3 linked regions of the Homo sapiens genome follow. The protein of the gene in region 2 interacts with the protein of the main gene of each other region in a biochemical or structural test. Each region holds a gene or a part of one and is shown on either strand. Other genes may lie near its edges.

Evidence for each region.
Region 1: the proteins of TGFB1 (region 2) and VASN form a complex in vitro, tested with the Homo sapiens proteins (one study listed by BioGRID).
Region 3: the proteins of TGFB1 (region 2) and DCN form a complex in vitro, tested with the Homo sapiens proteins (3 studies listed by BioGRID).

What each region holds. Positions count from the first base shown.
Region 1 is NC_000016.10:4,370,283-4,374,031, reverse strand, and holds the start of VASN (vasorin precursor), read right to left. Parts: upstream 2,185-3,749; 5' UTR 2,039-2,184; intron 1-2,038. UniProt on the Homo sapiens protein: May act as an inhibitor of TGF-beta signaling.
Region 2 is NC_000019.10:41,347,174-41,350,922, reverse strand, and holds part of TGFB1 (transforming growth factor beta-1 proprotein preproprotein), read left to right. Parts: intron 1-2,467; coding exon 2,468-2,628; intron 2,629-3,749. UniProt on the Homo sapiens protein: Transforming growth factor beta-1 proprotein: Precursor of the Latency-associated peptide (LAP) and Transforming growth factor beta-1 (TGF-beta-1) chains, which constitute the regulatory and active subunit of TGF-beta-1, respectively.
Region 3 is NC_000012.12:91,176,174-91,179,922, forward strand, and holds part of DCN (decorin isoform a preproprotein), read right to left. Parts: intron 3,307-3,749; exon of another isoform or gene 3,189-3,306; intron 2,474-3,188; exon of another isoform or gene 2,413-2,473; 5' UTR 2,380-2,412; coding exon 2,169-2,379; intron 1-2,168. UniProt on the Homo sapiens protein: May affect the rate of fibrils formation.

The sequences.
Region 1 (3,749 bases), on a different chromosome or scaffold from region 2:
CTGGTTTTCTTGGCAGCACAGAGCCTTGGGCTCCCCAGCCCAGGGAGGGGACTCTAAGGGCAGCTGATGGGGGGTCCAGGAGAGGTCACTAACAGAGTTAGGTGGCCTTGCTGCCCTCCCATGAGCTCAGGGCTGGCCAGTGGTCAGGGATAGCCATCCCTGTGGGCAGCCTCCCCTCTACACACCTCTGCTCACTGGCAGGACTGGCTGTCTGGCCTGCTGAGGTGGGAGCTCCCTCCTGGGCTCAGCAGGGCCCTGCTTTCTTGTTCCCAGAGGCTGCCCAGTGTTGTGTTGGGACCCACTTATAAGCCCAGGCAAGGACTTAATTTTCTGTACTTGGGACTTGTCCCAGCTCCCCCGGGGCTGTCAGTGGGGGTGACAGTAATGGGAGCTAGGAGCCGCGGACCCATCTCCTGCCCGGGGCATCTCCCTTGCCATCTCCCTGGCCCCTGGGCTGCGTGCCAGAGGGGCCTTCCTCGGGTAAGCACAGGTCTGGGCAGTGTCTGAGAGGCTCCTTATGCTGAATCCCATTCTCCCATTCCCAGAATATGGAGAGAGAGGTGCCATCTGGACAAATGCCCTGGGACCCCAGCCCCCAGCCCCATCCCCATCTGACCCTCCGGACCCACAGGTAGCAGGACAGCTGTTCCAACGTGCAGGAGACAGGGGCGGGGTGGGGACAGGCAGTGCCCGGCCCCCAGGCTGGCATGTGTGTGCGCATCCTCCCTCCCCAGGCCCAGGGGAGGCTAGATAATGGTCTGGAGGGGATCCAGCTGGGCTGCTCATCACCAGAGCCTCTTCCTGCCTCTGACACTCTGTTTACAGAAGCTCCAGGCCAACTCCCCTGGGAGAAGAGAGTAAACTCAGGGGACTGCTCCCCATCCCCCACCCGCCTGCCCCAGCTCTGTTGGGTTTTTGTCAATAGCTGGGCCCATCCTGGACTTTGCTGCCCCCTGGACTGGCCCTAATGGACCCTGCTTGGAAGGTCCCAGCCCGGCCACCCCTCTATGCCCTCAACACCCAAAGTACAGTCTAGTGTGAAGGGACCTTGGAGATTTTATCCAATCCCCAGCCCTGGAGGCTCTCAGCCTGGGGAAGGGGGCTCTAGGTCCCGCTGCCTCTCTCCAGAGCCTCACCTGTCCTTGGTGCAAAAGGCAGGCATGGGGACACCTAGACCCCCAGGACCTCTTCCTTCCACCCTGCACACTCCACCCCTGGGCCACAGCAGGGGAGGCGGTCAGTGACCCTGGTGTGGCAATCGTTAACGAATGGGGGAGAGGCAGAATGGTTGGCACCAATCGGCTGGCCTGCCAGTGACCACAGGGGACCTCAGCAGTCCTCAGGCCCCAGCACTGCCAGCCCAGGGACACAAAGGACTAGGCTGGCTCCAGGCCACTGGGTTTGCAGCCCAAGCAAAGCCCCTTCCCTGGCAGAGGCAGAGACCCGGCACCCTGCCTGATACCCGAAGCTCTAAGGGCCCTGGCCAGTACAGGTCCATCCCCCACCTGGAGGGATGGGCATCGGACGCCCACCAGCCACTCCCCGCCCCTCCCTAGGGCTGCATATCTGTAGCCCCCAGCTGTGCTTTGAGTGACAAGGGTCCAGAGGACCCCGGGCAGCCCTTCTGCACAGCAGCACCTACTGCCGGACCCCAGGAGGGAAAAGTGACCCAAGCCTGTGGCTTGGCTATCCCCCTCAAAGGGGTTTGATTCATAAAACTGGTCATGCCGGAGGCCCAGCCGTGGGAGGAGGAAGCATGGGACGGGGTGTTTATTTTGTCTGCTTGCAGCCTCGCGGGCTCACCGCACACTCAGGCGCGCACCCTGGCCGGCCGCGGGGCTGTCGGCGCCCCAGGACGGCGGGGGAGGGAGCGTACAGGGCCTGCCCGCCGGGCGGCCCAGGTGACCGTGTGGGGCTGGGGCCGCGGTCCCGCCCGAGAGTGCGTGTGTGCGCGCGGCGGCGGTCCCCGCGCGTGTGCACAGCCTGGCCGTGGCGCCCCCTTCCCCGCCCGCAGCCCCCCAGCCCCACAGAAACTCACCGGGAGGCGGCGGCGGCGCAGGGAGCCGGGCGGGGCAGGCCGCGGCCTCAGTCTTTCCTGGCGGGTCGGGCCCGAGGGGGTCCTGGGTCCCGAAGCAACTGCGTTCGAGTCCGCGTCCACCCGCCCCGGGCTCGGGCTCCGGAGTCGGCTCGCTGGAGGCAGGTCGCGCCTTAAGAGTCCCGGGGGGCGGGCCCGCCGCGGCAGGGGCGGGGCCTCTCCCCATTGGCCGGGGCGGAGCCGCGTGGAGACACGCCCCTTCCCCACCGAGGGGCTCGTGGGCCGGGTTGCCCTGGCCCTCACCCTGCGGCCACCTGACCTGCGCGGGGAGACCTTGCCCGTCGTGGGTTTGCCGGATGACACTGGGCAGGTTTCTGCTTTTTGTGTAAAAAGCGAGAGACTATTTAGGAATCCTAAGCGTCACAGCCCAGATGCCTATGAGGCACCAGGCAGGTGACAAATGCCAGAAGTCCACCCCAGGGCCTCTGCGGCCCTGGAGAGGCAGGATGGCGGGAGTGGGGCTGGTAAGGGCTGAGTCCTCATGACCAGCCCGGGCCAGCTAGAGCTTTGGATTTTTGAAGAGAAACTGGAAATCCAGATTTTTAGGTGAAATCTCTCAATGTGTTATTGTTGGTAGCTAATCCCAATTTCAAAAAACTCCTGGCAGCCCACACAAAGCCCTTTCAAGAGCCTCCTAAGTATAAACTCCAATGCCAAATCTGAGCTCAGGGTCCTCTTAGCCACGACAGCCTTAAGAGTTGTGAGCAGCCCTGGACTCTCTTCCCCACCATATTATGAGATGAAGGGGCTGTGTCAGGGAGGGCAGTGGTGGTCTGCCCACGGCCCCACAGTTACTGGCAGCTTCAAGCCTGAGCTGTGGAGGCATAGGGGTGGTCACCGTCGGTGGGTGGGGCCTGGGCTGCAGTTGACAGTGGCCCTTGATTGGGCAGGAGGGGCGGGTGCCAGGGGCCGGACTAGTCCAGAAAAATCCCCTGCCTTGGAGGATTCCAGGAAAACACTCTGCCCTCCTCCCCCTCCGCGTTTGTGGTCAGTCATGCCTCAGAGCCTTTGGGGGCCCAGCTCAGCTCCTGACTTCCGGAGAGCCTTGGGACACCCACACCCCCTCCAGCCCGGCCTGTAGCCAAGGCCCTTGGCTGGGCTAGCTCTAGTCTTTGGGGGGCCTGAAGGCTTATCCCTGGGAGGCTGGGCCACACCAGCTGGAGGGTTTCCTAGTCTCTGGAGGACTCAGTTATCTCCAGAAGGCAGGATGGCCTCTGTGTCTAGCCGTCAAGGGCTAAGCAGGGCCTGGCTGGGACAGTCACCTTCTGGACCTCCCGTCCACAGGGCCCTCTCCCCACAGGGCCCCTTTCCAGGGCTGGCAGGGCTCCACAACCCATACGTTTCTCGGTCTACATGGATTAGGGCATGGCTTGCGGACCTCTGTTCCTGGGTTGGGGCTGGCCTTTGGGTGCATTTAGTGCAGGCTTTATGGGAGTTTTTACAACTTTGAAGGCACTGCTAACATTGAAAAATCAGGTGGTTTCATATTAAAATGGGGCTTCCCAGCTTGCATTGAACAGGAACTCTCAGCTGGGGCTGAGTGGCGGTTGCTCCCTCTGCCAAAATGTGGGCTCATGGGTCACCCCAGTCCCCACCACTCCCTGCTGCCTCCTGCCAAGCTGTCCACTCACTTGAGTTTCCTGCCCGGCCCCAG
Region 2 (3,749 bases):
ACCCTTCCTCTCCCTCCTCTCTGTCTTCCTCCCTATCTGTCTTCCCCAGCCAAGGCTCTGCCTTTCCTTTGGGGTTTGCTGAGTAACCTCCGGGCCAAGAATAGGGCTTACTGGGGCTGGGTGGGGAGGGAGACTGGGGAGGAGGAGGAGGATCGAAGGGGGCCGTAGGGGAGGGGTTTCCTCTGCCTTTCTCACCAGTCTCTTTTCACACCCCCACTATGGGAGGCTGGAAGCAGTTGCCCCAGTTGATCCAGCAGTTCATGGCCTGTTCCCTCATCCCCATCCCCAAACTTTTCCTAAACTAGAAAATACCTTGGCTGGGCGCGGTGGCTCACGCCTGTAATCCCAGCACTTTGGGAGGCCAAGGTGGGTGGACCACCTGAGGTCAGGAGTTGGAGACCAGCCTGGCCAACATGGTGAAACCCGGTCTCTACTAAAAATACAAAAATTAGCTGGGCGGGGTGGCGGGCGGCGCCTGTAATCCCAGCTACTTGGGAGGCTGAGGCAGGAGAATCGCTTGAACCTGGGAGGCAGAGGTTGCTATGAGCCAAGATCGCGCCACTGCACTCCAGCCTGGGCGACAGAAACTCCATCTCAAAAAAAAAAAAAAAAAAAGAAAAGAAAACACCTTAATTCCTTTTCTCCCCACTACAGCCATTCCTACCCAGAATGAACTTCACTTTCCCTAACCAGCTGGGGAAGGGAGTTAAGGGTGGAAAACTAATAATAAAAATAAGTAGAAGAATCACTTAGGGGTTAAGAGCACAGTCTCTAGCTGGGTGGGTGTGGTGGCTCATGCCTGTGATCTCAACATATTGGGAGGCTGAGGCGTGAGGATCCCTTGAGCCCAGGAGTTCCAGCCTGCCGTGAGCCATGGTTGTGCTACTGCACTTCCGTCTGGGGGACAGAGTGAGACCCTGTCTCTTGGGGGAAGAAAAAAAAAAAGCACAGTCTCTGGAATGAGACAGCTTGAGTTTGAATCCCAGTCTGCAGCTATGTGACCTTGGGGCAAATTACTTAATCTCGGTGCCTCAGTTTCTCATCTATTAAACGGGTATAATAATAGTATAAGGTTGTGAGGTTTAAATGTCTTCATCTTTGTAAAGTGCTTTAGATAGCATCTGGTAAATAGCGCTGTTTTGTGGTTTTTTGTTGTTGTTGTTTTTGAGACAGAGTCTTACTCTGTCACCCAGGCTGGAGTGCAGTGGCGCAATCTCGGCACACTATAACCTCTGCCTCTCAGGTTCAAGCGATTCTCATGCCTCAACCTCCCAAGTAGCTGGGATTAGAGCCGTCCGGCACCATGCCTGGCCAATTTTTGTATTTTTAGTAGAAACGGGGTTTCACCATGTTGGCCAGGCTGGTCTCGAACTCCCGACCTCAAGTAATCAATCCACCTCGGCCTCCCAAAGTGCTGGGATTACAGGCGTGAGCCACTGCGCCCAGCCAGCACTCTTAGACGTATACATGATTGAGTGACCAGTGTATGCAGAATTGGTGCCACATGGCTTGACCTGGGTCATCTAATTTCCCACTATAATACTGGAATGGGTTCTAGAGTCACTCTGTCTTGTCTTACACCTGGCTCAGAGAGAGGAATTCACTTGCCCAAGGTTACACAGCGCTTAAATTAGGAGAGTCTGTGTGGGAATGCAGGGAGCTTAATGTTATTGCTGTTTTTCAAAGAATAACAGGAAACTGACATTCAGAAAGAGGGTGTTAACTGCCCATGGTCACACAGCCAAGAGGCAGCAGAGGCACTATCTGAGTCCAAAGCCTGTGCCTTTGATCCTTACTCTGCATTTTAGGGGCTCTTGCATTTGGGGCAAGGAAGGCCAGAGCAAACAGAGTGGTTCCCCTTGGTGCCAGCCTTAGTCGACTTGAGAGATGATGCTACATGAGAGAGGAATGTGGTTAGGACCTATTTTACAGAGGAGGAAACAAACCTAGGGGGAGAAACCACTTCCTCAAGGTCACACAGCTAAAAAGTATCACAGTCAGGGCTGGGCGTGGTGGCTCACACCTGTAATCCCAGCACTTTGGGAGGCCGAGGCGGGTGGATCACGAGGTCAGGAGATCGAGACCATCCTGGCCAACATGGTGAAACCCCATCTCTACTAAAAATACAAAAATTAGCTGGGCATGGTGGCATGAGCCTTTAGTCCCAGCTGCTCGGGAGGCTGAGGCAGGAGAATTGCTTGAACCCTGGAGGCGGAGGTTGCAGTGAGCAGAGATTGCGCCACTGCACTCCAAGCCTGGGTGACAGAGCGAGTCTCCGTCTCAAAAAAAAAAAAAAATTCATTTAAATAAATAAATAAATAAATAAATAAATAAATAAATAAATAAAAGGTATCAGAGACTGACTCCACCCCAGAGCTGTCAGCTCCAAAACTCCTAGAGTTGGGAGCACCAGCTCCCCTCACCTCTGCCAAACCCCTGATCGCCTCCCTTCATTTCTCCCTGCTAGAAATCTATGACAAGTTCAAGCAGAGTACACACAGCATATATATGTTCTTCAACACATCAGAGCTCCGAGAAGCGGTACCTGAACCCGTGTTGCTCTCCCGGGCAGAGCTGCGTCTGCTGAGGCTCAAGTTAAAAGTGGAGCAGCACGTGGAGCTGTACCAGGTGAGGACATGAGCCAGAAGGAAGGTCAGGGCATGGGCTGGAGAGGGTGAGCTGTGACCAAGGGGGTGGCTGTGGGTCGGCTGGTTACAAGGTCCACCTAGATGGTCCCTGAAGGATAGAAGAACACAAACCATACAATCCTAGAACGCTTTTTTTTTTTTTTTGAGACAGTGTCTCACTCTGTTGCCAAGCTGGAGTGCAGTGGTATGACCTCAGCTCACTGCAATCTCCGCCTCCTGGGTTCCAGTGATTCTCCTGCCTCAGCCTCCCAAGTAGCTGGGATTACAGGTGTGCGCCACCACGCCCAGCTAATTTTTGTATTTTTGGTAGAGATGGGGTTTTACCATGTTGGCCAGGATGGTCTCGATCTCCTGACCTCGTGATCCACCTGCCTCGGTCTCCCAAAGTGCTCAGATTACAGGCGTGAGCCACTGCGCCTGGCCTCTTTTTTTTTTTTTTTTTTTTTTGAGATGGAGTCTTGCTCTGTCGCCCAGGCTGGAGTACAATGGGGTGATCTCGGCTCACTGCAACCTCCGCCTCCTGGGTTCAAGTGATTCTCCTGCCTCAGCCACCCGAGTAGCTGGGATTACAGGCATGTGCCAACACGCTGGGCTAATTTTTGTATTTTTAGTAGAGACAGAGTTTTATCATGTTGGCCAGGCTTGTCTCAAACTCCTGCCCTCAAGTGATTCTCCTACCTGAGCCTCCCAGAGTGCTGGGATTACAGGTGTGAGCCACTGCACCCGGAACCTAGAGCACTTTTAAATGTTCAGACTCTTTGCATCCTAGGATGTTAAACACTTAGAAGGCTGGAATCTTAGGAGTTGGACTCTTTAAGGACACAGGATTCTTGAAAGTTGGAATCTCTGAAAAGGTTGGGGGCTCTAGAATCATTCTGTCCAATATGACAGCCACTAGTCACATTTAGCTTGATTAAAATTTAAATTGTTTAAAATTAAATTAAAAATTTAGGGCCAGGCATAGTGGCTCACACCTCTAATCCCAGAACTTTGGGAAGCCGAGGCAGGCAGATTGCTTGAGCCCAGGAGTCCGAGACCAGTCTGGGCAACATGTTGAAACTTCGTCTCTACAAAAAATACTAAAATTAGCCTGTTATGGTG
Region 3 (3,749 bases), on a different chromosome or scaffold from region 2:
AATATATTTAAATATTCATCTGTAAATTTTAAAATATTGAAAATACCTTGCATGAGACCACTGCTCATTGGAACTTACTTAGTTCCCTTAGTTAAATATGGTTTTAAAAACAAATTATTTTTATAATTTTAGCTACTTCCTTAGTATATGAGTCAGTAAACCTAGCTATAATAAAGGAATGATGTACACTTTGAGCTCCTAGAAAAAAGATAACATGTAGAAAACTTTCTCATCTGAAAACAAAAAATAAACAAAACAATATCAATGGCAACAACAAAACTGTCATAAAGATCCCAAGTCAGTGAACTTGCTGCTTCCTAAGACTACATTTTGTTGTTGTTGTTGTTGTTTCACTTTGAACAATTGACTTATGCCTTTTTACATAACAGAGAATTGGAAAACTGGCCCAGTGCTTTCATCAGGGTCAAGGTTTATGAGCTATTTTTTCATGGAAGCAAAGGCAAACTATATTTACGAAAAAATAAAACTTCACTAAAGTGACTGGCCAACTCTTCTTTCCTTAAAAATATCAACCCTTCATTTTTGATAATACATGTAGCGAGAGTAATAATAAATTCTTTTAACTTTTTCTCAGAGGCAAAGTGAAATTTAATTCGCATTACATTTTTTGGGAACTTCGCCATTTTAGTAACTTCAGAAAAGATTATCCTGTGTATATCCATCAAATGGTGATTTCTTTGTTCAGATTTTTTTCAACCCTGTTATTTTCCTGCCCAAGGCAATAATGCAGGTCATCTCTAGATGCTTATAAAATTTCTGAAGAGTAATCCAATCTCCCCTGTGGCAAATACACAATTCAAAAAGTAATAGTCACCACCACTAGAACATAAGATCCACAAGAACTAGGGCCATATTTGTCTTCCTCATCCTTTCTCCCCATGCCTAGAGCAGAGCTCATCCATGATGGGTTCCCGATATAGCTTCTGAATGACTGAACAAATAGATCCATTGGAATTATCCTGCGGCCTTTTGAAAGTCTTCATATAACATTTGTATTTGGGTTTTAAATAGCTATACAATATATGTGTTGAAGAAGCTATTTCAAGTGTTTTTCAGTCGTTACTACTGAATATACTTTATATTTTTTCTGGGTTCCTATAGGCAGTTTATTCCAATTGTAGAAGTTGCATTTTTCTTCTGCAAACTACTGCTAGAAAGCATGTTCTGAGTAAATATAGGACTTCTGAAAGAAGTGCCTGATCATAGTATGGAATTTCTTCCAGAAGGAAGTACACATGGCGGAATCATGATATAAAGATTTTTTTTTCTTTTCATCTCCAGTAAGAAAATACACCCCTTCAAAAGGAGGAATGTGAATGAGCTGCCATGTAAACTGAGTTCATTCCCCTTTGGCCCATCCACTGAGCTTCAATCTTTCTGGAGATTTATCTTCTAAGTGTAATGCTCTTGGAATTTCCAGACCAAATTTTTCTGAAAAGATGATAAATCAAACTGTCTTTAGGGTGTTAGGCTAAAGATATATGTAACACAATTATATTGAATATTTACACCATACCTTAGTGATAAATATTTCCTTTGAAACTTTCTAAAGAATATAAGCAGCTGGATTACAAAATGTCAAAAGTAAAGACAAAACTAAGACTCAGAGATTAAGGGAGTATTTTGATACTTGAAAGATAAGATTTTGTCATAAAATTTGATGTGTTTTGCTTTTGATAACTGATTATTTTACAATTTAGTAATGTTGAAACTCTGTTGTCTGGGCTAAGTGAATAGTAGAGAGACTGACCTGATTTTCTTAATATCTAATATTTTATAAAAGCATATTATAGAATTAAGATTAAACCATTACTCTGAAATTTTAGAACATAAGACTTTTTTAATTCAAAATTTTATTTTGTAGAAGAAGGGATATAAAGCTCAGAAATATTTTTAAAAATGATTTGTCCAAGATTGCAAAGTAATGGAGGAAAAAAGGAAGAGGGACAGAGAGGGAGAGAGAGAGAGAAAGAGAGAACAACAACGCTACTTTTCTTTCTATCCTGTTCTGCTTCCTTTACTCCTCATTAGGTGGCACTGTCTCTCAAATTTAGAGAGATTAAAACTGAAAATGCTAAACTCTCAGAGTTGCCATTCCCAAGAATAAAACAAGTAAGGTAGGTAAAGAGAAACTGCATCCCACTCACCCAAATCAGAACACTGGACCACTCGAAGATGGCATTGACAGCGGAAGGGGCACACTGGGCCTAGGGAGGGCTCGAAGTCGCGGTCATCAGGAACTTCTGGGCCTATCCCAGAAGCCTCATCTTCTAGCATAAAGTCAAATAAGCCTCTCTGTTGAAACGGTCCAGCCCAGGAAACTTGTGCAAGCAGAAGGAGGATGATAGTGGCCTTCATGATTTATCTCATGTATTTTCACAACCAGGGAACCTAGGAAACAAATGAGAGATTTAAGAAGAGTAGCACTGCCTAATCTGTGTGTCGTTTCTTATATAATATGCCACAATACAGTGAGCACAGAGAAAAGATGCAAAATAATATTTCATTTGTTATCAGGAAGCAGAGCATTAAAAATGTATTGAAAGACAATCAGGTACATTATAGTATCATTTGCACAGCTATTTACTTAGGATGAGAAATCTGAGTATTATTTAAATCTGCTTGTTTGAATTTTGGGTCTAAACTAAGATGATATACTATATATCCAAATCATTTGCAAAATTGTCATGGTAATAAATCATGTTGGGCTTTTCAATGCTCACTTAACACATGGTCAGATAAAATTATCTCTATCCACATAGGAGATCTCCAATTTCTGCTTCAGAAATATCTCTGGAAGCCAGTCACATCTCTCCATCCTACCACAATTATTTTGATCCAGGCCCTTCTCATCTCTCCCTAAACTACTACAAGAGCTTCTAATTCATCTCTGCCTTGCATATTTCCTCTATTTCAGTCCATCTTCCATTTTGCTGCCTGAGTCATCGTCTAAAAATTCAATTTTGTCTTATTAATTTCTACTATAAACCATTTATTAACTTCCTATGGCTTATCAATACTGTCCACAGTCCCTGTGCTGTATGTCAGACCACTCATAAATTGGTATGAATTAATAGCTCTAGCCACATTCCTTTTCATTGTCACTCCATTCCCAGTCCTCACCTGAACCCTGACAATCAAAGCTACTTGCCATGTAGAATACCGACCTTGCAAGAGAGTTGTAAAGATTAAATGAGATAGTGGGCTTCTCTTCTGTGTCCCCTGGCTCATCCAGGCAAGATGCTGCTTTCTCCCTCTTCTCTGCTCCCAAAGCACGTTGCTCTTACCTCTTTTAAAGAACTTATCACATTATATTGCAATTTGTTTTGCGTGCTTGGTCTGTCCCTCACTAGACGATGTACTCCTTCAGGGCGTGTCTTATTATTCCTTGTTCTGTACCCGGGCCTTGCACAATATTTTGCACACAAATGACTCAATTGACCATCACTTTATTGACAAGACGATTTATTCCATTTGTTCCAAGCAATCAGTCTGATTTTTTAAAACACAAAATTAGCTTTTTTTCAGTATCGAATTTCTGATATAAAAAAAGCAGATTGAAAACCTCAACTTGGTATAAGCAAGATCGGCTTTAAAAAATAAATCAATTTCCTAGTTTCTCAAACATTATGTTTAATAAGCTAATAAACACATATGGAAAATTCTGATTTTTATGTGATGTATATATGATCTCATTTTGCTAACAGGGCATTTTGTAAAAAAACAAG